4 linked regions of the Homo sapiens genome follow. The protein of the gene in region 1 interacts with the protein of each later gene in a pairwise test. Each region holds a gene or a part of one and is shown in the gene's direction. Other genes may lie near its edges.

Region 1 (7,034 bases):
CAACTCTACTGCCTCGGCCTCCCAAGTAGCTGGGACTACAGGCACACACCACCACGCCCAGCTAATTTTTGTATTTTTAGTAGAGATGGGGTTTCACCATGTTAGCCAGGCTGGTCTCGAACTCCTGACCTCAGGTGATCCACCTGCCTTGGCCTCCCAACGTGCTGGGATTACAGGCGTGAGCCACCGCACCCGGCCTGGACCTGGGATTTTTGTAAAATTTGTAAAAGAAAGATTTTTTTTTCTGTTGCTTTTCCAAAAGAGGGCCCCCAAATCATGTAAGCTTCAGGGCCTCACCAACCTGGACCCACCCTGGAACCCAAGCCCTCTGAGCCCCTGGGTCAGCCTGCACAGAAGCAGGGCCTCCAAGACCTGGCTTGTCTCTTTTTTATTTTTTTAGAGACAGGATCTTGCTGTGTTGCCCAGGCTGGTCTCAGACTCCTGGACTCAAGTGATCCTCCCACCTCAGCCTTGTGAGCAGCTGGGACGATGAGGCGAGGCGTGGGCCACTGCATCCGGCATGGCTTGTCTCTTGACTAAGGCTTTCTCACCTCTTGGTGTCATCGCCCCAGTGGCAGATCAGCTGCCACTCCTGGCACCCCCAGGCCACAGCTGTGACCTTCAGTAAGTGTCCCCTCCCCACCCTCTGTGCCTCAGTCTTCCCACCCGAACTGGGCTGGGCTGGGTCAGAAGTGCCTGATCTGTTGCGCGGTGACTGCCGCCTGTCAGTGACTCATTTCTTTGTTCTAAAGCCAGATGGGAAAAAAAGGAGTTACAGCAAGAAGCTAAACTGATTTAATAGAAAGGACCACCTTTTATTTGGAGTTTATATTCTTTTTTGCAGGGGGCTAAGATGGACTATAGGGAATGAATATCAGTGCTGGCAGATGAGTTTTTTGTTTGTTTGTTTTTTGTTTTTGAGATGGAGTCTCGCTCTGTCTCCAGGCTAGAGTGCAGTGGCGCGATCTTGGCTCACTGCAACCTCTGCCTCCTGGTTTCAAGTGATTCTCCTGCCTCAGCCTCCCAAATAGCTGGGATTACAGGCACCCACCACCATGCCCAGCTACTTTTTAAATTTTTAGTAGAGACGGGGTTTCACCATCTTGGCCAGGCTGGTCTCAAACTCCTGACCTAGTGATCCACCCGCCTCAGCCTCCCAAAGTGCTGGGATTACAGGTGTGAGCCACCGTGCCCAGTCAATGTTTCTTTAATTCTCTACTTTGACAAAATGAAAATGATAAAATGTTTGAAATGTTGCCATTTTCAGGGTTCATTTTTTAAGGGCTTTGGCCATAATACCACATGGTTCTGTAAGTGGGGTGGGTATCTTCCCCCCGTTTTACAAATGACAGAATTAAGGCTCAGCCTGGAGAAGTGACTTGTGCTAGCTCAAGGCCTGGGCTTGTCAGAGACTTGGTTTGAACCCGGACTGCTGGGCTCCACATTCTGTGTACTCCCTGTGGGTTCTCTGCCTGGATATCCATGGCACCAAGGGGTGGCCTGAGGGGGGCAGCTTCATACCCCTGGTTTTATTCACCCCCTCCACTCCACCCCCCATCATCCCAAGTGAACACTGAATAAAAAAGCTGAACTTGGCCAGGTGAGGTGGCTCACGCCTATAATCCCAGCACTTTGGGAGGCCAAGGCGGGTGGATCACTTGAGGTCAGGAGTTCGAGACCATCCTGGCCAACATGGTGAAACCCCATCTCTACTAAAATACAAAAATTAGCTGAGCGTGGTGGCGGTCGCCTGTTATCCCAGCTACTCAGGAGGCTGAGGCAGGAGAATCGCTTGAACCCGGGAGGCGGAGGTTGCAGTTAGCTGAGATCACACCACTGCACTCCAGCCTGGGCAACAAAAGCAAAACTCTGTCTCAAATAAAAAAAAAAAAAAGCTGAACGTTTTTTGTAAACACAGCAGTTTCAAGATAAGACCCCTTGCCTCCCCCAACCAACTTGCCATGTGCCAGCCATGGGGCCACAGGAAAATTCTGGGACCAGCGGTTGTTGGGGAAGAGGGTCCAGGGTAGAGACAGAACCTCTGGCCAGTTCTGATGTTCATTTGTTCATTCCACAAGTCCCCTGCTCAGTGCCAGCTGAGTGCTCAGTGCCACCCCAAGGCACTCTCGCTCCAATAACGAGAACAGGATTGAGTGGGAAGCACTGTCCCAGAGGCTCGGGTCACTACAAGAAGGAATTCCCAAGGGGTGGCCCAGGAGAGGCTTGGATGACAGACTCACAAGCTGGACTTCCTCTGAGGGCAGTGGGAAGCTGGAGAGAGGGTCAAGGGTATTTCGGAAGCTCCTGTGGAAGCTTGGTTTGGAGAGGGCTCTGTGGCTGGAAATGCGTGGTCACGTCCAGCCTGTCCTCTCCCAGTACCGGGCACAGCCCTGTCACCTAGACAGGAAGGTGGGCCCACGGCCCTTGTTTGTTATTTATTGCTGACCACCCTGGAGTCTTTCTCACCTCTTCACCTCCTGTGGCCGGCCGCTCCGCCGCTTCTTCTCTCTCAGGTCTAGGACAGGGTCAGCTGCAAGGAGACCGCTGGGAGGTGATAGATTTCTGCTGTGTTTTGGGCACTTCCTCATGTCCAGGGACAGCCCAGGGGCGGCCTCAAGAGCCTGAGAAAGCCTAGGGCATCAGGAGCAGGGCCATCAGAGCGGGACCTTGGAAAACCCCTACCTCTTTCAGCCTTGGTTGCCTCATCTGTAACATGGGATTGGAGGGCCTGGGTTTGGGGAGGCCTCGAGAGTTTATAAAAATGCAAATTTTGGCCAGGTGTGGAGGCTCATGCCTGTAAGCCCAACACTTTGGGAGGCAGAGGCAGGTGGATCACCTGAGGTCAGGAGTTCGAGACCAGCCTGGCCAACATAGCGAAACCCTATCTCTACTAAAATTACAAAAAATTAGCCAGGCGTGGTGGCACGCGTCTGTAGTCCCAGCTACTTGGGAGGCTGAGGCATGAGTATCGCTTAAGCCCGAGAGGTGGAGGTTGCAGTGAGCCGAGATTGCGCCATCGCACTCCAGCCTGGGCTAAAAGAGTGAAACTCCATTTCAAAAAAAGAAAAGAAAAAGAAAGAAAGGAAAAGAAAATGCAAGTTATTTTTGTTTGTTTGTTTTTGAGACAGGGTCTCGCTCTGTCACCCAAGTTGGAATGCAGTGGCACGATCTCAGCTCACTGCAGCCTCCACCTTCCAAATTCAAGCGATTCTCCTGCCTCAGACTCCTGAGTAGATGTCCGCCACCACACCCGGCTAATTTTTATATTTTTAGTAGAGACAGGGTTTCATCATGTTGGCCAGGCTGGTCTCAAACTCCTGACCTCAAGTGATCCGCCTGCCCCGGCCTCCCAAAGTGCTGGGATTACAGGTGTGAGCCATCTTGCCTGGCCTGAATGCAAGTTTAAAAGGCCTGCCGTAAGTCTGCTGTGGTGCGTTTTGTTATCCCCTCCTTAGATGAAAAGCTGAGGCCCAGAGAGGTTAACTGGAGTCACTGGGATCGGAACCCATGGCCCCTGCTCCAGGGAGTCCCCAGCCATGTGGGGAGTCCCACATGAGCAGCGTGTGCAAAGCTGTTGGGCGGGCCTGAGCCCCAGGGAGAAAAAACAGAGGCTGGGAGAGGAAGGGAAGAGAGGAGGAGAAGCCAGGAGGAGGAGGGAGGGAGGAAGGGAGAGGCAGATGGCAGGGCTGTTGGAGGGAGCCACACTTGGCACCCAGACCGGAAGAACCAGCTGTCAGGTGGGAGGGGAGGCAGGGTAGGCGCAGAGGAGTGCCTTGGCCTGGAGACCTGAGGCTGCGTTCTGCACCCTCTCTGCCAGTGATTGGCTGTGTGACTGGAGCAAGAGGCCCATGCTCTCCTGGCCTTGGTTTCCCCATCTATCAAATGGGAAAAGGATAGTTGGATTGCTCTGGTGGATCCCGACCTTTCCACCCTTGAAGAACCCCACTCTTGCTCCTAGTGGACTCCAGGTTGGGAACTTTGGATTGGTCAGTCTTTAAAGAAGTGATGTTGGGGCCAGGCGCGATGGCTCACACTTGTAATCCCAGCACTTTGGGAGGCCAAGGTGGTTGACTCACTTGAGGTCAGGAGTTTGAGACCAGCCTGACCAACATGGTGAAACCCTGCCTTTACTAAAAATACACAAATTAGCCGGGTGTGGTGGTGCCTAGGATTATGCTTGTAATCCCAGCTACTCCAGAGGCTGAGGCACGAGAATCGCCTGAACCCAGGAGGCGGAGGTTGCAGTGAGCCAAGATCCCACCACTGCATTCCAGCCAGGCAACAGAGCAAGACTCTGTTTCAAAAAAAAAAAAAGTGATGTTTGGAGCCATCCCCTCATGCTTTGTAGGAGCCTGCAGCAGAGGGGGCACTGGGCCCCAGGTCTATGCATGGGAGTGAGAGGTGACAGCATGCTGTCCTCACAGCCCTCACTTGCTCTCGGCTCCTCCTCTGCCTGGGCTCCTACTTTGGCGGCATTTGAGGAGCCCTTCAGCCCACCACTGCACTGTGGGAGCCCCTTTCTGGGCTGGCCAAGGCTAGAGCCCACTCCCTCAGCTTGCAGGGAGGTGTGGAGGGAGAGGCGCGAGCGGGAACCGGGGCTGCGTGCGGCGCTTGCGGGCCAGCTGGAGTTCCGGGTGGGCGTGGGCTTGGCGGGCCCCGCCCTCGGAGCAGCCGGCCAGCCCTGCTGGCCCCGGACCCGGGCGTGGGCTTGGCGGGCCCCGCCCTCGGAGCAGCCGGCCAGCCCTGCTGGCCCCGGGCAATGAGGGACTTAGCGCCCGGGCCAGCGGCTGCGGAGGGTGTACTGGGTCCCTCAGCAGTGCAAGCCCACCGGCGCTGCGCTCGATTTCTCACTGAGCCTTAGCTGCCTTCCCTCGGGGCAGGGCTCGGGACCTGCAGCCCGCCATGCCTAAGCCTCCCACCCACTCCATGGGCTCCTGTGCGGCCCGAGCCTCCCCGATGAGCACCACCCCCTGCTCCACGGCGCCTAGTCCCATCGACCACCCAAGGGCTGAGGAGTGCGAGCGCACGGCGCGGGAGTGGCAGGCAGCTCCACCTGCAGCCCCGGTGCGGGATCCACTAGGTGAAGCCAGCTGGGCTCCTGAGTCTGGTGGGGACGTGGAGAGTCTTTATGTCTAGCTCAGGGATTGTAAATACACCAATCAGCACCCTGTGTTTAGCTCAAGGTTTGTGAGTGCACCAATCGACACTCTGTATCTAGCTGCTCTGGTGGGGCCTTGGAGAACCTGTGTGTCCAAACTCTGTATCTAACTAATCTGATGGGGACGTGGAGAACCTTTGTATCTAGCTCAGGGATTGTAAACGCACCAATCAGCGCCCTGTCAAAACAGGCCACTCGGCTCTACCAATCAGCAGGATGTGGGTGGGGCCAGATAAGAGAATAAAAGCAGGCTGCCCGAGCTTGCATTGGCAACCTGCTCAGTTCCAAAGCTTTGTTCGTCTGCTCGTTGCGATAAATTTTGCTACTGCTCACTCTTTGGGTCCACACTACTTTTATGAGCTGTAACACTCACCGCGAAGGTCTGCAGCTTCATTCCTGAAGCCAGCGAGACCACGAGCCCACCGGGAGGAACGAACAACTCCAGACGCGCGGCATTAAGAGCTGTAACACTCACCGCGAAGGTCTGTAGCTTCACTCCTGAGCCAGCAAGACCACGAACCCACCAGAAGGATGAAACTCCGGACACATCCGAACATCAGAAGGAACGAACTCCAGACGCACCACCTTAAGAGCTGTAACACTCACCGAGAGGGTCCGCGGCTTCATTCTTGAAGTCAGTGAGACCAAGAACCCACCAATTCCGGACACAAGAGCAGAGCAGACGGCATCAGCTGGAGCCTGGAAGGGCAGTCATGCCCTGTGTTTCTGGGACAAACGTCCCTTCACAGATAGAGTTTTGCTCATCTCCCCGCTGCTGGTGGAGCAGGGGCCAGGTGAAGGGGACCTGGAGAGAGGGGCGGCTGCGTAGCTGGGACAGCCCCAAGCTGTCAAACCCAAGCTGCAATCATGCAGGAGCTTTAACAAGTTGGGGCTCCTCCAGTACCTCACAGTGCAGGGGGCAAGAGTCCCTGAGCCTTCAGCCCCTCCCAGAATGTCCCTGACACCTTTTGTAAATTGCACTGTAACCTGGCCTGCCCCAGACCTTGCTTCCTGCAGCCTGTTCAGTGGGGGCTGCTTTATCCCTCAGACCCTCCCTCTGCTGGGTGTAGAGGTCGACAGGGTCCTTCTGGTTCCTGAGGCCACTTACAGGACATTGTCCCCCAGCTTTGAATCTCACACCAGCACTGGGTCGCCCACTCCCCTTCATGATGAGCCAGCTCGAGGCCACTTTGCCCGTTCTTCAAAGATGCCCCCCCAGGCCGGGCACGGTGGCTCACGCCTGTAATCCTAGCATTTTGGGAGGCCAAGGCAGGCGGATCACAAGGTCAGGAGATCAAGACCATCCTGGCTGAGACAGTGAAACCCCGTCTCTACTAAAAAAAAAAAAAATACAAAAAAATTAGCCGGGTGTGGTGGCGGGGGCCTGTAGTCCCAGCTACCCGGGAGGCTGAGGCAGGAGAATGGCGTGAACCTGGGAGGCGGAGCTTGCAGTAAGCCAAGATCGCGCCACCGCACTCCAGCCTGGGCAACAAAGTGAGACTCTGTCTCAAAAAAAAAAAAAAAAAAAAAAAAAAAAGATGCCCACCCTAGCTTGGTGTCAGTCCTCTCCAGCACTGCTCCTGCTCCAGTCCTGGTCATTGGAGTGTCTATTTCTGTGACCCTTTCCACACCTGGCCTCCTCTTCCCGCATGGTCTTGTCCGCCAGCCTCAGCCAACTGTCACCAGCTGGACCCTAGCTAGGCCTGGCCCTGCCTTCCCAGTAGCCTCTCGCACTCCCTGATCCTCCATCCAGGCGTCTCCTCCAACCCTCCTACCTTTCCATCTCCCTCTCCCTCCCCTGATCCTAGATCCTTGGGCCTGGGGCCTCTGAACCACTGATCTTCCCCTGTGCACTGGCCCTCACCACCCCTTGGTC
Region 2 (2,799 bases), on another chromosome or scaffold:
GACACCCCAGCCTCATTCACTGTGGTCACATGCATGCCTGGTTCCTTCCCAGTTCAAGAGCAAACTCTCAAGAGGGGTGGCCCTGATCAGGGGCCTTGGCACCCCCATCCTGGGGCACTGGGGAAGCTTCAGATGGGCTTGATGTCTTGATGTTCTGGGGTGGGACTTTAGACCTTGGGGACCGTCGACTCCCTCCCATCCCACTCACCTGAATGGCCTGTCACTCCTCCAGGCAGGTCCTTGGCAGGTGGGGAACAGCAGGCAAGGGTGCCCTCACTTGGGGTGCCCCCCTGCTGTGCCTATGTTTTGCAGTCTGTGGTGGTGCCCAGATGCCGGGGGACGGCAGAGGCACTTCAGATCACGGTGGGCCACATCCTGGGAGACGCTGGCAGCCCCTATCTCACAGGACTTGTAAGACGTGTCTGCGTGTGTGGGGTGGGGAGGGTCTGGGGGCCAGGCTGGTGGGCCTGGCAGACTCATCCCTTCTCCTCCGCAGATCTCTAGTGTCCTGCGGGCCAGGCGCCCTGACTCCTATCTGCAGCGCTTCCGCAGCCTGCAGCAGAGCTTCCTGTGCTGCGCCTTTGTCATCGCCCTGGGGGGCGGCTGCTTCCTGCTGACTGCGCTGTACCTGGAGAGAGACGAGACCCGGGCCTGGCAGCCTGTCACAGGTACCCTACCCATTGCACCAGGCCCGGCTCAGGGCCGGCACCCTAGGGACAGACAGCACTGGCCACCCCCTGAATCCCTGGCCAGTTTGTTTGTTCATTCATCCAGAAATGCTTAGTACACCCCTGCTATGTACCAGGGAAGGTTGCAGATGCTGGGGAGTGAAAGAATGAGGCCAAGTCCAGGCCCCTGTAGAAACTGACACTGTAGTTGGTGAAGACAGACCAGAAACAGAAAAGGTTAAAGATATAGCATGTTCAGGGTGACGAGTGCTATGGAGAGGTATAAAGCAGGAAAGGAAGGAGAAAGGGGCCGGGCGCGGTGGCTCACACCTGTAATCCCAGTACTTGGGGAGGCCAAGGCGGGCGGATTACAAGGTTAGGAGTTCAAGACCAGCCTGGGCAACATGGTGAAGCCCTGTCTCTACTAAAAATATAAAAATTAGCCAGGTGCGGTGGCACACACCTGTAGTCCCAGCTACTCAGGAGGCTGAGGCAGGAGAATCACTTGAACCCGGGAGGCGGAGGCTATAGTGAGCTGAGATCTCGCCACTGCACTCCAGCCTGGGCGACAGCAAGACTGTCTCAAAAAAAAAAAAAAAAAAAAAAAAGGGACAGGTAGGTGCAGGCTGCAAGGATCCCCACTGCACAGGCGAAACTAGAGCAAAGATCTGGAGGAAACGAGGGAGTGAGCCGTTCAGCGACCTGGGGAAAGACGCTTCCGGCAGTGGGGACAATCAATGCAAAGGCCCTGCCATGGGAATGCACCTGATATGTTTGAGGATCAGCAAGGAGGCCAGTGTGGCTGCAGCAGAAGCAAGAGGGACAGTGGTAGGGGTGAGGGATACGGGGCCAGAGCAGGCAGTCCTTGTAAAGACAGTGGCTTTTGCTCAGAGTGAGACGGGAGCTGCTGTGGGGCTTCCAGGAGAGGAGCACCGAGGTGGTCTGATTGATGTTGCCAAAGCATCTCCCTGGCTGCTGTGTTGAGAACAGACTGTAGGAGGGTCAGTGTTGAGGCCGAGAGGCATAGCCGACTCCCCTTCCAGGGGAGAGTGGTGCCTAGACCACGCCAGTGGCATTGAAGGTGATGACAAGGGGTTGGATCTGGAATGTATTCTGCATTTGGGACAGAGAGGATTTCCTGACAGCCCGTGCCCAGGCCCAGGCCTGGTCCCAAAGCACCTTCTGCAACCTTCGGGCAGGCTGAGCATCTTTCCTCCTGCAGGGACCCCAGACAGCAATGATGTGGACAGCAACGACCTGGAGAGACAAGGCCTACTTTCGGGCGCTGGCGCCTCTACAGAGGAGCCCTGAGGTCCCTGCCTACACTCGTCCTGCCTGCAAGCCTCCCGTTGGTCCCCACAGCAGCAGTGCCTCGGTTCCTCTTTGGCTGTCCTCGGGGACTCCGGCTGAGGCACATCTGCCACTTTTGAATTCCCGGCTGGAGAGCTGGCAGGACCCTGTGGCTGGGCTGGGAATGGAGCTGTCAGCACTCTGCGTGGGAGGCCTGGGCCTGTGCCTGCATCCCGCTCAAGGCTGCCCCAGCCTGGGGTCTCCAGCCTGGCTGCTGCTGGGCCCTGAATAAAGAGAGGCCAGTACAAAGCCCATGGATTTTGGGCCTGTAGACAGCCGTGTTATTTATAGCCTCTCGTGCCTCTGCTGGAGGGGAAGTGGGTGAGGACGGGATGGGCAGTCCAGGCCAAGGATGCAGGGCTGTCCTGAAGTGGGGAAGCTGGGGGGCTGGCTCAGCATGGGTCTCTAGGGGTCCGCAGCCTGGACCTCCCACTCTGACCCAGCTTCTCCATTCTGCAAAGTCACAGGCACAGGACACCCTCTACGTGATTCCACTCTTTGTTTTGTTTTGTTTTTGAGATGGAGTTTAGCTCTTGTCCAGGCTGGAGTGCAGTGGCGCAATCTCGGCTCATTGCAACCTCCGCCTCCCAGGTTCAAGAGATTCTTCTGCCTCAGCCTCCTAAGTAGCTGGGATTACAGGCATGTGCCACCACGCCCAACTAATTTTTGTATTTTTAGTAGAGACAGGGTTTCACCATGTTGGCCAGGCTGGTCTTGACCTCCTGACCTTAGGTGATCCGCCAGCCTCGGCCTTCCGAAGTGCTGAGATTATAGGCATGAG
Region 3 (7,034 bases), about 15 Mb from region 1:
CCAGCCCGTGAGGCAGGCGCCGATGATTTGACCCCACCAGCAGGGCTCTGGGTGATGGGACTGGGGAGTCCTCCTTCACTTTGGCAGACGTGTTATGTTCCACCTTGTTTGCCCCCAGCAAGGCCCTTGAATCTGGAGCGTGGTCTGGGGCTGCATCAGCCTTCTAGCCTGGGATGGTCAGATTGGCAGAAGGCTGTGGCATCCTTCAATGCAGATGCCCTAGAGAGGGCCGTGGTGGGAGGCAGGATCCCTGGGTAGAGGCGGCTCCTCAGTGGCCCACTGGGCCTCACTGGACAGTCGCCTGTTGCTGCTGCTGGTGGTGCTGGGCCTGGGAGTCCACCTTGGAGCCACAGGCCAGGCACCTGGGTGGGAGGCAGCCCGGGGCCAGCACCAGCTCCACTTGTACCTGTTGGGCAGGGGCTATCGTGAGTCAGGTGGGCCCTGGTGAGTACTGCTCAGGGAGAGAGGCCAAGAGCATCAGGGATAACTGTGTTCCTTGAGTGTGGCCAGGGATGGTGCCAGGAGAGCTGGTCTGGTGCATCCCTGCCAACGACACACTTTGTGAATGGCTGCCTGGCAAGTGCTCCATGGAAAGCAGGGGCTTGGGAGGACTCGGCCCTCTCCAGCTGCTGCAGGCCCTCCGTTGCTGCAGGGTTTCTGGCTCTGCTCTCTCCTTCCTCCTCCTGCTTCTGTGTCAATGCTCCATTCCCAGGCTCCTAGTAGGGGCAAAAGGGCCTGCTGGGTGCAGGAGAACCTCCAGTCCCAGGTATGGCTGCAGCCCGTGCCAATCCTGTTCCAGCCACTTGAGGTGCCGACAGCATTGGAGTTGGAGGGAAAGTTGGGGTCTGTGTGTTTGAGCTCTGTCACATGGACAATGGGGTAGAGGGGAGCCTGGCCCTTTGAACAGGGCTCAGGACCAGGAGTGACTTCCTCTCCAGGTTGCCAGTCCTGCTCCATCCCTCATGTCCTGGAAGAGAGAGAGAGACGAGGTGGCTGCCCGAGTCCACGTGAAAGGCAGCCTCTGACCTCTTGTCCCCAGGCAGGTGGTGGCGGCTGGCAACACACTCATAGGGCCCCATGAGGGTTCAGGATTGGAGGGGGTAGATTTGGGGGCCTCTTAGCTCTCAAAGAGGGGCAATTTAACGGGCAGAGGTCCATTTGGATCCAGACCATTCACAGGCTCGAAGGGGACACTGGGAGTTGGGGCTGGGCTCAGGCCTGCTGGGGAACCAAAACTTCTGCTTCTGAGGGGTGTCAGTAATTCCATTTTGACTCTGGGGGAGCCATTTTAAATCTGTTTATTTCCTTCTCATAGAATCATGGGTGAGAGCTGGCATGGCCCCTAGAGGTCATTTGGGGTCCAGCTGCCTCACCGTATCAATGAGGAAACTGAGGCCCAGAAAAGAAAAGCATTTTTGCCCAGAGTCCCTCAGTGAGTCCTGGTTCCGTACCTGCTTTCTGCCAGGGACCAAACTCCCGTTAGTCATTCCTGGTGTCAGCCAGGCAGAGGAGCAGGTGGGGGAGAGGGCGTGGGAGGAGGGAGGTGAGGCAGCTCCCTCCGAGTGGAAGCTCACAGTCAGCTGCAGCGCCGCCCCTGCCCTGACTGCAGCTGACTGGCAGGGGCACCTGGAGGCAGCGGGTTCGGGCGCAGTATGAGAGGGCTTACCCTCTGCGGCAGTGGGAGACAGGACCAGGCAGCTCCCCACATCCTTCCACATCCGAGCTCCAGGGGTCTCTGGCTTGTCCTTTCACAGGGCGGCTGGTGTCCCTTAGGTGGGTGCTGGTAGTTCCTGGGAGAGTTGACGGGATGGAGCAGGCCAGGGGGGCTGAGAAGTTGGCCTGGCGAGAGAAGGTGGGTGGGACTGGGAGAGCCTGGGCAGGGAGGGGCCTTTCTGGGAGGGAGTGTCATGGGGCTGGCCGAGATCCAGGACCCAGGAGACTGGCCAAGCTGCCACAGGAGGCCTGAGAGGCTGAGCATGGGGGGGCCAACACTGACAGACTTTAACAAGTTTCTGGCTCCCCCAGGAAAAAAACAGACCACATCTGATCCTTGGCCCTGAGTCCAGAGTGGGAGGCACCGTGACAACAATGCGCAGAGCAGGGAATGCAGGGAGCCATGGATAGTGCTGGGGTGAGCTGGAGTCCTGGCAGGGGCCCAGCTAGGGCAGTACTCATTCTGCAGAGCCTGGGAGAAGGGGCTGCCTCCTTGGGAGGGGTTTGTGTGGGAGTCTCAGCGGGAATTCTATTGGACCAGGGGAACCAGCCTTGCTCAGTGACTTCTCTGGGTGTCCTCCTCTAAAGTGAGGGTCAAATTCCCACCTCTCTCGCCTCCTGGCTATGACCACAGCAGACCAGGCAGGGCATGGGGCTAGGCGGGGTCAGGGGCCATCCTCAGGCTGACACCTGGCCTGTGGGTAGGGTGGGATCTGAAACTATAGGGTCTTCAGGGGGCCAAGTGTGGGGTAAGGGGTGGCACTTTCCGCAGGGCTCGCCCTCTGCAGATGGTTCAGCTTCTCATCGGCTGTCCCTTTGCAGGTGCCTCAGGAACCCTGAAGCTGGGCTGAGCCATGATGCTGCTGCCAGAACCCCTGCAGAGGGCCTGGTTTCAGGAGACTCAGAGTCCTCTGTGAAAAAGCCCTTGGAGAGCGCCCCAGCAGGGCTGCACTTGGCTCCTGTGAGGAAGGGGCTCAGGGGTCTGGGCCCCTCCGCCTGGGCCGGGCTGGGAGCCAGGCGGGCGGCTGGGCTGCAGCAATGGACCGTGAGCTGGCCCAGCCCGCGTCCGTGCTGAGCCTGCCTGTCGTCTGTGGCCATGCCCATCATGGGCTCCTCGGTGTACATCACGGTGGAGCTGGCCATTGCTGTGCTGGCCATCCTGGGCAATGTGCTGGTGTGCTGGGCCGTGTGGCTCAACAGCAACCTGCAGAACGTCACCAACTACTTTGTGGTGTCACTGGCGGCGGCCGACATCGCAGTGGGTGTGCTCGCCATCCCCTTTGCCATCACCATCAGCACCGGGTTCTGCGCTGCCTGCCACGGCTGCCTCTTCATTGCCTGCTTCGTCCTGGTCCTCACGCAGAGCTCCATCTTCAGTCTCCTGGCCATCGCCATTGACCGCTACATTGCCATCCGCATCCCGCTCCGGTGAGCAGGGCCGGGGTTACATCTGTGCAAAGGCTGTTGGTGCCCAGGCTTTGGTCTGTGCCCGGAGCCAGGGTGAGCCTGGGATCAGGGCCTGGTCTGCAGTGTCAGCATGGTGAGCTGGCGACGGGGCCCCAGGCTCAGCAGGGGCTCCCCAGGGCCAGCACGTGGCCAGCAGTCATGCCGAACTGACTGACCCCTATGGGCGCAGGGCAGCCTGGCCCTCCCAGGCGGCCTGGGTTCCCCTAGGCTGCCTGAGGCCAACTGTGCTCTGCTTTTTGGCAGATGAGTGTGGCCAGGGTCTGGCATTGGGCTTAGCAGGGAGCTGTGGTCCCAGTGACCCACGTGCTGCCAGCGGGTGTGTCTGGGCCATTCCTCACACACAAGCAAAACTTCCCGGATGATGCTGGGGTGGAGTGGGGAGCCAGGGGAAACCATAGGACCTCAGAGTTAGGAGCCGCCCGCCACCTGCCTTCCCCCAGATCCTCTGGGCCAGCCTTGCAGTGTGCACATTAGGAAAATGACCCAGAGAGGGGAAGTGACTTGGTTGAATGCCACAGTGAGTCACTTGGACCTATATGCAAATTCTGTTGCTCCTCAAGTCACCAAGGACTCATCGTCTTAGAGGCAGCCAGTGTGCTCAGGGGCTGGCTGTTGGAGGGGATTTTTATGGTGAATCTTTTGTGAAGTGACTTCAGCCAAGTAATTGTGCAAATGAAGATTTTCCCAGAGGCTGAATTACTCGGCATGGATTCCACCTACCCAGGCCATAGATGAGGCTAGAAAGTGCATCCCTCCCTTGGGGACGTCAGAGGCCTTCTGCCCCACCTCCTGGCCCCTCTGCCACAGAGCTGGGTTCCACAGCCTGGGTGGTTGTGGGCCCTGAGGCCATGTATGAGGCTTGAGGTGGTGCCTCTTGAGAGTCAGGGAGCAGGGTGCACCATCTCTGCGGTGAATTATCTGAAACTGGTGGGTGCCTATCTAAAGAGGAAGCCACAGCAGGTTGAGGGTGCCCCAGCAGGAAGGAGGACCCAGCTAGATGAGCAAATGGAAATTTAGAGCGTCAAAGCCAAGGGGCCCTTAGAGGTCATTTCCTCTCATCTTCGGGATGGAAAATGAGCCTCAGAGAAGACAGCCAGCTGTTTCCGGGCCACACAACGAGTTGGTAGTGGAGCTGGGGCGAGTCCTGGAAAGAAATGTGGCCTGATCCCCACTGTGACTTCAGTCACTGGGGAGCGGTCATGAGCAGCCTGTCTCGCAGAGCCTGCACCAGGTGGCTGTCCCTGTCACCTGGGCTCTAAGTGGGAGCAGGAGCTGCACTGGGCTGCTCCAGGGAAGGGGAGGAATCTGGACCTCACACTGCCCTGTCAGATGCTCTCTATCCCAGGAGAGTCTAGAACCCTCGGCAAAGGAGAAGGGGACCCTGGCCAGCCCTGAGAGGGGTGGAATTAGGGATTGTCGGACTCCAAGTGCAGTCTCTGGTGAGCCTCCATCCATTGCTCTGCGACGGGCAGAGCAGAGTTTAGGTTCGTCCAGTGGCAGCTCAGAACACGGAGGCCCAGGAGGGGCCCTGTCTGCAGGTGCCCAGGTGGGCCAGAGAACAAAGCACTGGAGGGGACTTCAGGGAACCAAGCTGAGTCTGCACACTGATGGGATGCTCTATGGGGAAGCAGAGGCCAAGCTCTCACTTTTTTCTCTGATTCAAAGGGTATGATCAGGGCTGCCGTTCTCAATTTAAAGGAGCTCGACTTTTTTTCTCTTTTGTCTCTCCCTTTCCTTCTCTGTTTTCTGAGAGTTGAGAGAATGACTCCCTATGTAGTAGGACAGGATGTGCTGTGTGGCTATGGAAAGTTAGCTGCCTCTCTCTGGGCCCATTTCCTCATCCATAAAATAGGACAAGTCTCTCTGCCCCTCTGAGCTCACAAAGGTGTTCTGAAGGTCCAGTGAGTGGATGGGGTGACAGGGACCCTGAGGAGGGTTGGAGGCGTGGGGAGGGTGGGGATTCAGATCTTTGGGTTCAGAGCCATGGACCTGCCCCCTATCCTCTACCCATCTCATCCCAACTTCCTTGGAGCTGGACCTTAGTTCCACCCAGACCTTGAGCCATTTGACTCTGCTCCATGAGGCTCTGCAAGGCTTAGGCTGGTCTCTTCTGCAGGGGGCCCTGGAGAGGATGACGACGATGATGTTCATCCTCCCTTGAGGGCAGAGAGCTTTGCAGTTGCCAAAGGATGTCAGCTCAGCATCTCCTGTCATCCTCTTGGCCTGCATTGTGGCCAGGCGGATGTTCTGACCCTCCTGTTACTCACAAACTCATGGGGAGGCCAGAGCAGGGAAGGACATACGAGTGTCTCCTGATGTGGATGGACTCCAGGGCCCTTCAGGCTGTTCCTGGCCCGCAGGTCCCTTCGCTTTCCTGTTCCTCAGGGCCCCTGGGCCTCTGGGCATGTGGAGGTGTCCATGTGGGCTCCCGAGAGCAAGCGGGGTATGAAAGGAACTTGGTGACACTCCTGGCCGGCGCTGGAGTCACAGCCTGCCTCAGGATCCTCCCTCCTCCTTTCTCAGCTGGGAATCCAGCCTCCTCTACGTGCCGTTTCCTGCTCCACTCAGAAAGGTCCATTCGGCTAGCCCTGGGTCTAGCCTCAGGCCTGCCCCACTCTCCATTAACTTTTTTTTTAAAAAAAAGAACTCAGTTTTGGAAAAATCTGTTATTTTCCAAGTTCAGGGAACCTGTTGGGCTAGCACAGGGCCTAGTCGAGGAACTCTGTGAGAAAGACTTCAGGCCAGAGGCAGAGATGTAGCTCTCTGTGTTCCCAGAGGATAGGGAATTCAGGGTGAGAGACACAGGCTTCTTTTTCCAGTTCCCAGGGGATTTTTGCCTCACTGTCCCCTCCCTGGCTCTCACAGCAGCCCTTGGTGGATGTTCTCGCTGGTTTGAGGAACAGGCCAAGGTGCAGGTGGCAGCTGGTGGTGAGGCCCGAAGTCCTAACACTTCTAAGAGGGCAGGATTGGGAGAGAGGGCTCCCTGGAGGAGGTGTCACCCAGTGGGTCTTGCAGGACGGGCAGGCAGGGTCTCACTGGCATGAGTGTGGGGGCAGGTGTGTCAGGAGGGGGGCAAAGCCTGGGACAAGACCCTGAGGAAGGAATGAGCATGTGAGCACTGGGTAGGGAAGGGTGGCCTGGCTGCCTAGTGACAGAGAGAGATGAACAGAGTGGGCAGGAAAGGTGGAGGCCAAGTCAGGCCTGTTCGTACCAGGGGAAGGAATGGAGGTTTCCCTGTGGGTCCATGGCTCTTCAATTCTTGGATCAATGACTCCTTTGGACAACTTAGGAAGGCTCCACCTACTCCTCAGGTTGGGACATGTGCACATAAAGCCCCAGCTGGAATCATGGGGCATATTCTTGGACCATAGGGTGAGCCCCCAGTGTGGGTAATGGAGATCCCCAGAAAGGGGCAGCCTGCAAGCCGGGGGACACAGAGCTGCAGAGGGCACCTCCACAAAGGGTGGGCAGCAGCTCTGGGACCCACATTCTCTGACATGCCTGGGCACCCCAGAGTGGTGGTGTGTCACGCTAGACAGCCTTGGCATCCCTTCCAGCTGGATGGTCAATGTTTGGGGTCTAAGACGGCAAGATGTGAGTGTGTTGGTCACAGATGCAGCCCAGGATATGCTGCTGGGCCTGGCTGAGGCTCAGCTGTGATTCCATTTGGGCCCTGATGCTGTCCCCACCCCGTGGGCACCAGGGTCCAGGGCTCTCAGCCTATGGAGATTTCTTTTGAATAAACTTAGTCTATTTGCAATTTAAGAAAAAAAAAAGTCATGTTTTGCCCACTCTAAAACATTAAAAAGGAACAAAAGAGTATAGTATAGTAGAAAGTTGTCCTCCATACCCCC
Region 4 (7,872 bases), on another chromosome or scaffold:
AAGCCACGCGCTGCAATAGCGGCTGGAGCGAAGGGACTGCAAATAGGTCACGTCACCCAGGATGGCATTATCTCGCTTGGGGACAAAGTTCAAATTGTATGGATGTTTGTGGTTGTGAGAGCAAAGGCACGAAATTATCTTTGGAGATTTTTGGGCGTAATTTCCCATCACTGTATCTTTGTCTGTATAGACAAAAATAATTGATAGAAAAAATACCTAGAAAATTCAAGCATCAGCCGGGTGCTGTGGCTCAAGTCTTTAATCCCAGCACTTTGGGAGGCCGAGGCGGGCGGATTGCCTGAGCTCAAGAGTTCGTGACCAGCCTGGGCAACACGGTGAAACCCCGTCTCTACTGAAATACAAAAAATTAGCTGGGTGTGGTGGCGGGTGCCTGTAATCCCAGCTACTCGGGAGGCTGAGGCAGGAGAATTGCTTGAACCCGGGAGGCGGATGTTGCAGTGAGCCAAGATCGCGCCACTGCACTCCAGCCTGGGCGACAGAGCAAGACTCTGTCTCAAAAAAAAAAAAAAAAAAAAAAAAAAATTCCAGCATAATCAGCACTTTCTGCCCCTCATCCAGGCTTAGAAGACATGTAAGTGGTTGGCTCTCGGCTGTACAATCACAGCCCGGCTTCCTCGGCTATCCAATCACAGCCGTATTTGGCTCTCAGCTGTCCAATCATAGCCATACTTGGCCCTCAGCTGTCCAATCACAGCCCGGCTTCCTCCACTGCTCGCTGCACTCAGCTGGATCTTTTCCACCCAAAGTGCCACTTGCTCCAGTTTGCAGGGTTCATAGAAACGGCTGCTGAGCTGCAGACCTGGTGATGCTTGGGTCCAGCCGAGCTGCTCTCTCCAAAGCTGGACACTGCTCTGCCGCCCGTGTGGAGATGGGGTGTGGATAGCGTGTGTACCACCCCATACTCCCTATCGTCCCACCTGCTCTAGTTTTGGGATCGCACTTCTTCTCTCCATGGGAATTTCAGTTCTCTATTTTGCTTAGTTGTTCACTGTTTGGTTCCTCCACTAGAACTAGGCTTCTGTGAGAATGGAGACCCCTGGCCCTTTTATCAGTGTGGTACCCCAGTACATTAGGAAGGATGCCTGGCCCAGGGTAGACGCTCAATAAATAGTGTGGACGACTGTAGAAGTGGGTGCTGTATCCCAGGCTGCAGAGGGCTCATGGGAAAGGAAAAGGACCTACGAACTTGGAAAATAAAAAGGGTGTGTGTGTGTGTGCATGTGTGTGCATATGTGTGTGTGTGCATGCGTGTGTGCATGCGTGTGTGTGTGTGTGTGCACTGTGCACATGAGTGTGTTCTGAACCAGGACCTACACGATCCCCCTGACTATGAGAGTGGAACAGGCCAGATTCTCCGCACTCGGGCTCACCTAGCGTTGCCGCCCTGACAGGGAGAGTGGAAGACGGTGATCAATCACAGAGCTGCTGCTCTCCTTCATTCTGGTGCAAAATGAGGGTGCCTTAGCCCAATCAGATGCTGTTGTTCAGGGACCCTGCAGGCCCTTGACGGTCTTGGCTGGGTGGTCAGGCCACTCACATGTCCCAGGTGGAGACGTGGGCTGAGAGAAAGACCCAGAATCCCAGGACATCACCAGCAGCTTTAACCACACCGTGGAAGCTGGGAGGATTCACAAATGGTGTGAGGATGGGAGTATTTCCAGCCAGGCTTGCCACACGATGGGTCTCTGCCCTCTCTGATAAGTAATGGAAATTAGCTAAGGGTCTTGGCTGAGGGCCTGACATAGCCAACTGGCCCCAAAGCTTTTTCTCTGATTGGCTCTCTGGGTTCTCCTTGGCCGAGGAAGAAGCCAGAGCCCCGAATGCCCGCTCAGCTCAGGAGGTGGCCTGTCTAGCCAGGGGAAGGCGGAGTGGTCAGCCCCCGCCAAGATTTAAGATGCTTTGGAACATTTGCTAAGAGAAAATACTCTCTCAAGCCATGGTTGTGTTAGCACAAATTGTTCTTCCTTACACACACACACACACACACACACACACACACACACACAGCATGAGTACATTTATTTCCAAAGTGTGAAATTCCCTAAAGTAGCCAAGAACTCATTCTACTCCCTATAGATACCTTCTTCATCTTTATGTGGATAAAAAGATGTAAGATACATTTGAGTTTATTTGGTATTGCTTTTATTAACAAAGATTTCAGATGTAAATGTCAAGAAAATTGATATTAATTTGCTTACATGAGTACATTCCTTAAAAAAGCAAACCATTGGGTAGACTTCCCTTAAATTAATCTTTAGATTCTTGGCAGGAAGTTTGGTGATTTACAAGGTGATTCTACAGCATGAAGAACGCATGGCGCCTGTGGTGAACTCAGCCGTAGCAAAACGGTGCCATCTAGTGGCTGGTGAAGTCTCGGTTTTCCGGAACACGCGTGCTCTGAGCTTTGTATCACCCAGGGCATCTGTCATTTTAACGTCCAATGAGTGACCTGCAGATTCGAGCAGATCTACAGAACCACCTCTTTTCTCAAGCTGATAGAGCCCAGATGTTAATTTTAAGGACTGAAGTGGCTATTGACACCTTTTAAATCCTTTACACGTACCCGTCTTTGGCCTTTGGCAGGTCAGCCCTGGGCCAGGCCATGGCTCCAGTGCACACACAGAGCTCATAACGCCAAAACCAGCTCTGAGAGCCAAGCCAGCTCTGGGTTTCTAGAGGTTGCACTCTCTTCCCTCAGGCAACTCCATGTCTGCAGGAATGTGTAGGCTGCGGGAAGGCAGCCTCAGGGGTCGGGTAAGATAAGAGTGTCCCTTTGTTTATGACGAGACCACTGGGGGACCATGTCTAAGACCTGCCCTGGTCACAGGAACACTGAGGGGTGCTGGGAATTATCTCCTCTAAGAGAAGCATTTTATTCTGCTACAGAGAAAAGGCAGAGAGTGAAATATACTGTTCATTTAAAAAAAATCCCTTTTAACATAGATAAAGGGGAGGAACTGGGAGGAAAAGAGAGAAAAAGCAGACGTAACTGAAGCCATGGTTTCAGAAATTCAATCCTAGTAGAAGTGCTGGAGGGACAGGGAGGGTGTGGCTGGGAAGGATGGAAACAGACCAGGTTTATTTGTGCACAAAGGGAAGCTCCTTAGAAGGCATAGGCTGGTGAAGGGGAGGGGAAGAGCAGCCTCTGGAAACAGCCCCCAGAGCCAGAGAGCGAGTCCTAGAGGATGGGGCTGGTGAGTTGAAGCAACCAAGGGAGAAAGACCAGCAGACAGTGCAATAAAACATCAGGAAGGTCCTCTAATATCAAAATACAGGTCATCCATGGGAACTAATGAGAGGCCAGAACTGAAGTAAACTAAAGTGTTGCCAAAAAATAAAAATAAGGTCCAAGTTGATTGATCGATAACACGGTTAGTATGAAGAAGTCCACATTATGCTAATTTCTTTACATATTATTCTAATTTGTATTGTCTCTGAAAGTCAAAATATCATCTTAGTCAATTAACATTTATTGGTGATAACATTTATTGGTGAAGTTGAACCATATATGTATCTTGAAGTTAACATTTTTGCTATATATCGGGTGCTGTTCTAGGGGCTTTCAAAATTATCCAAGTCTTGAACTTTTGCAACCCTCCTTTTTAAAGAGGAAACAGGTTCGGTGACTCAGTGACCCACCTGAGATCACCTAGCTAACAAATTACAGGATTAGGGTGTGAACCCGTGGAGCTCATCTGTTTCCATGCTCAGAATCCCTTTGCTAGACTGCGTGGCTCTTATGTCTATGTAAGCATGATAGTCCATGTTTAGTTAATATAAAAAGCTATTGTTTTCATAAAACTTTCATTTTCACTGAAATACATTAAGTGACAAGAACTTTACCCCATTTATCATTGGCCCTGATCTTCTGATGGTCTGGCAAGCTTCCCTGAGTAGTGTTGCCAGGATGCTAGACTTACCTGCGAGATTTGCCTTATAGATCTAATCTAGACAGAAATGGCTGACTTCACAGAACTTTGGAAACAATCTGCAGACATCAAGTTTTACTTATAATTGAATAAAAATAATTTTTCTTGCTTATTAGCTATGACATTTGTGGTAAGTTGCTTAAAGCTCCAGACTTACCCCGTCTAATACAGTTGTCTCTAGCCACATGTGGTTAAATTTTAATTGTAATTAACTAAAAGGAGATGCAGTTGTGAACTCATTTTATCAGTTGCACTTGCCACATTTCAGAACTCAATAGTCACATGTGGCGAGTGGCTACCATACTGGACAACACTGCCCCAGACCAAAATACCAAATCATTTAACTTTTCTGAAGCTGTTTCCTGTCTTATAATGGGTCTAAGATTTCTAATGATCATTAGCATAGCACTATTGTTGGTAACATGAAATAATGCATGAAATTCTTTGCATATTGTAAAGTACTATACTCATGTAAGTTGTTTTTTCTTTTAATAATTGCTGTACTGTGTTGTGAAACTGTACAGTCTTTGCAATACTAAGACTTTGGCCCCAGGATCTTACAATCACGTTAGCTCTTTTTCAGAAGTTGAACTATGTGTCTTGAAGTTGACATTTATGCTTTGTTCTTTAAGACTGAAGTCCTCATTCTGCACCACTGACAACTTCTGACAGTTTCTCTTACTGTGGAAGGTTCTATTCTATATACACATAAAAAGTGAAACATATCACTTTACCATCTGGACCATGTCTATTAGAATTTAATAGGAAAAAAGCGCAATTAACTAGAAGCTGGTAAGAGTAATGATCTTTTGCCCCATACAAAGTGGACATTGTGGATCACAGAGAAGGTAAATGAGTAACAGAGCTCCCGTATGCTTCATGGGGTCAGTGATAACCAAGTTCATTAACGAGTGACAGTCTTAATGACTAACACACCTCTAACATTTCACCTCTAGCTCAGATGAGAGAGAGAATGGGACTTCTTGGTACTGATTGTTTTTCCCATGCCTCAATTGGTTTCTTTTAGGGAGCTACAAATTTACGTGTTCACTGGTGATTGATCTTTTCATCCAGCACAATGGACAGAAGTCTAAGGAACGTCCTTGTGGTTTCCTTTGGGTTCCTGCTTCTCTTTACAGCCTATGGAGGTCTGCAGAGCCTGCAGGTATGTGTGTCCGGTCATCAAATTACCTGAACTTCTTGGCCTCCAAGAATCCCTGTGGTCACAGACAATAATGAATTGGAAATTTGAAAAATCTAATTCACCTGGTGTTTCTTTTTCACTCTGTACCAAATCCTCTAAAACAAACAGTGGTTCTCAGATGCAGTCCTACAGTGAGCAGTTCCCACTCACGTCTCAATAGGATTGCACAACAGCGAGGTGCACGTTGCTCTTGGACAAGGACAGCAGGGGTCTTGGGACTGTGATTTGTTGGGACATTCTTTGCCTTTGGGTGGTTAAAAGGAGACACAGGAAAAGTCATTGTGAATTCTATGATTGATTGGATGCCCTTGGCTTTGTGGTTAGGGGCAGCCATGTGAATTTATCAAATGTCACTAGACCTTATACATTCCAAGCCTACTCTAAGCTAAACTGTGAACTTTGACAACATGATCTCTCTATACTTTGAACTCCTTATGGCATGCTCTCCTCCATAGTTCCGTGAGCCCATGAAAAAGCCAAACGGCATTCTCCGAAAGGCTGCAGCATTCATCATGTGCACCTAGACATAGACCTGACACATTTTCCCAAGCTGGTTACATTTCAAGTCTGATCTTTACCTGGATTCCAGTCTGAATTCCAGGGAATTCCAAGGGCTGGTCAGGAAGCAGGGCTATTGTTACTCCCCCGGCTTATTCATTGCCACAGTGTTGTACCCTGTGGCCTGGTGTGGTCACATAAAACATTTCAGAGCTTCTGATGACAAATTAGTGTGGTCTTACATGGTTCGTCAATGAAGAATAAGAATTGGGCACCTACTGTGTGCATAGTATGGAACCAGAAAAGCACACCTGGGAACTCAGAATCCGAGGTTTCTCCTCTCACTGTTGTTGTGCAAACACTTGGGACTCCTGGGTTGCCAAGGAAGCTGGAATTCAGTCCTGAATTCTCAAGTAATGTTTCCTTTTGCTGAACTCCTATCTGGTTCTATTTCTGATCAGGCTTACAGAGGATAAAATGGCAGCCAACAGTGACTCTCAAAGTCAAGTGGAAGGGAACACAGTCTCTTTTCTTGCCGCAATGGTTCATTACTTTTGGAGTCCCTGCTTTGCCCAGAACTTTGTGTTGTTGTCACAGAATGCTGGTGTGAGTGAAATGCCTGTTGGGTTGAGGTGAGTGCATGTTGAATGTGGTTGGTGTGCACTTTCTGGAAGGAGGGAGTCTCAAGGATGTGGACTGGTCAGTAGCCCTTTCTCTTTAGAAAGCTCACCTGCCTGCAGAAGGAGACCCTGCTGTCCTCCTGGCACAGCAGCTCCCCTGGGGTCAGCATTCCTAGGAACCGACAGCTCCCCTGGGGTCAGCATTCCTAGGAACCAGTTCTGGTGGATCCGCTGTGGCTCAGCCACTGTCTGAAAATTGGCCTCTGGACTTGGAAGCCAGAGGAAGGGGGCTGGAGGGGGCTGGGAGCTGCCAGGGGTCCCTCCTCTCAGGCTGTGACGGCAGGACCCAAGGCTGTGGGCAAATGCGGGCAGACAACCCTTTGCCTCTTCAGCCCCAGTTTGGGGGTGCCTCATTGGGGAATCACTCATGGTGGCATCTGGATGAGCTCCGCAGCTGTGAGCAGCTGCCTGGGGAGTAGATTGTCCCACGCCCCGCCAGCACTTCCCACTCCTCCTGGGCTGGTGGAAGTGGGAGCTGCTGTCTCATGATGTCAGCCCTTCCTTCTCAAAAGACTGGAGATGCAGGGGAGCCAGACCTCCCTCTCTGCAGGGCCCCAGGACTGTGGAAGGGTCCCCTCCACTCCAGCTCCACCCTGGTTCGAGGCCCCACCCGGGCCTATTGTCGGCAGCTGACCTTGAGCATGCGGACGTGCTTTAACCCTCTAACTGGGACAGCTGTCTCTGCTACTCAGGACTGGCATGGGCAACACAGAGTGTTCAGATAGAAGTGACTCAGGATTGGTTTTGCCCCAGCATGCTGAGGAGCCGAGCCCACCTCTCTCCAAGAACCCCAAGGCTACTATGGGGTTGGCTTCGCTCTCAGGCCCCAACAAGGCACATGCATCCCCAGGCTCCCTCCTCAGAGCTCAGCAGCCCCAGTGAGAAGACAGGGCCTCATTCCAGAGAGTTCTCCTGAGTCCTCACCCTGGTCTGGACTAGGTCCCCTCGTCCAAGGACAAAGGACGCTCTTTTGTGGCACCTCCCCCTGTAGCCACCACCTCCTTTCACCCTTTCTGGCTGCAGGCCTCCAAGTTCTCATTCAGCTCTCAACTTGGAGGTCACCTCCTTCTCCCCACCCTGCCCTGGAGCTGAGGTCTGGATGGGGCACCCAGCACCCTCGTGGCGGTGTGTGCCTGCCCGGGTTGTCTCCACCAGTGGTGGCGGCCTGCAGTTTCCAGGATACGAGGGCCACGTCCCTGGTCCATTCTCAAACCTTAGACAGTGACGGGCACTCGGAGGCGGGCGATGGATATTTGGTGAAGGAAGAAATCATTCATGTGCACTCAGCTGCTTCATATCCTTCGGGCCTCCCCATGGGCTGAAGGACCCCTTACATTCCCTGGGAGCACGCAGGCTCCTCACAGATGAGTTCTGGCAGAGTCTCCAGCCCCATCCTGTCACACTGTCCTGTTCTCAGCTGAGATTCAGGCAGGTGTCCACAGAGGCGTGAGCGGCTCTCACAGCCATCCAGCCCCGGCGCAAGCACTCACAGGGGTGCCGGGCCTTCACTCCCTGATGTTTAGACACACTAACTGCTTTA

The links.
Region 2: the proteins of SYNGR1 (region 1) and SPNS3 interact in binary tests that used the Homo sapiens proteins (3 or more experiments, as listed by UniProt).
Region 3: the proteins of SYNGR1 (region 1) and ADORA2A interact in binary tests that used the Homo sapiens proteins (3 or more experiments, as listed by UniProt).
Region 4: the proteins of SYNGR1 (region 1) and UNC93A interact in binary tests that used the Homo sapiens proteins (3 or more experiments, as listed by UniProt).

What each region holds. Positions count from the first base shown.
Region 1 is NC_000022.11:39,352,964-39,359,997, forward strand, and holds part of SYNGR1 (synaptogyrin-1), read left to right. Parts: intron 1-7,034. UniProt on the Homo sapiens protein: May play a role in regulated exocytosis. Modulates the localization of synaptophysin/SYP into synaptic-like microvesicles and may therefore play a role in synaptic-like microvesicle formation and/or maturation.
Region 2 is NC_000017.11:4,485,916-4,488,714, forward strand, and holds the end of SPNS3 (protein spinster homolog 3), read left to right. Parts: intron 1-208; exon of another isoform or gene 209-312; coding exon 313-411; exon of another isoform or gene 412-496; coding exon 497-668; intron 669-1,890; coding exon 1,891-1,979; 3' UTR 1,980-2,289; downstream 2,290-2,799. UniProt on the Homo sapiens protein: Sphingolipid transporter.
Region 3 is NC_000022.11:24,430,596-24,437,629, forward strand, and holds part of ADORA2A (adenosine receptor A2a), read left to right. Parts: intron 1-301; exon of another isoform or gene 302-967; intron 968-1,652; exon of another isoform or gene 1,653-1,839; intron 1,840-2,025; exon of another isoform or gene 2,026-2,131; intron 2,132-2,535; 5' UTR 2,536-2,809; coding exon 2,810-3,141; intron 3,142-7,034. UniProt on the Homo sapiens protein: Receptor for adenosine. The activity of this receptor is mediated by G proteins which activate adenylyl cyclase.
Region 4 is NC_000006.12:167,286,462-167,294,333, forward strand, and holds the start of UNC93A (protein unc-93 homolog A), read left to right. Parts: upstream 1-4,853; 5' UTR 4,854-5,028; coding exon 5,029-5,115; intron 5,116-7,872.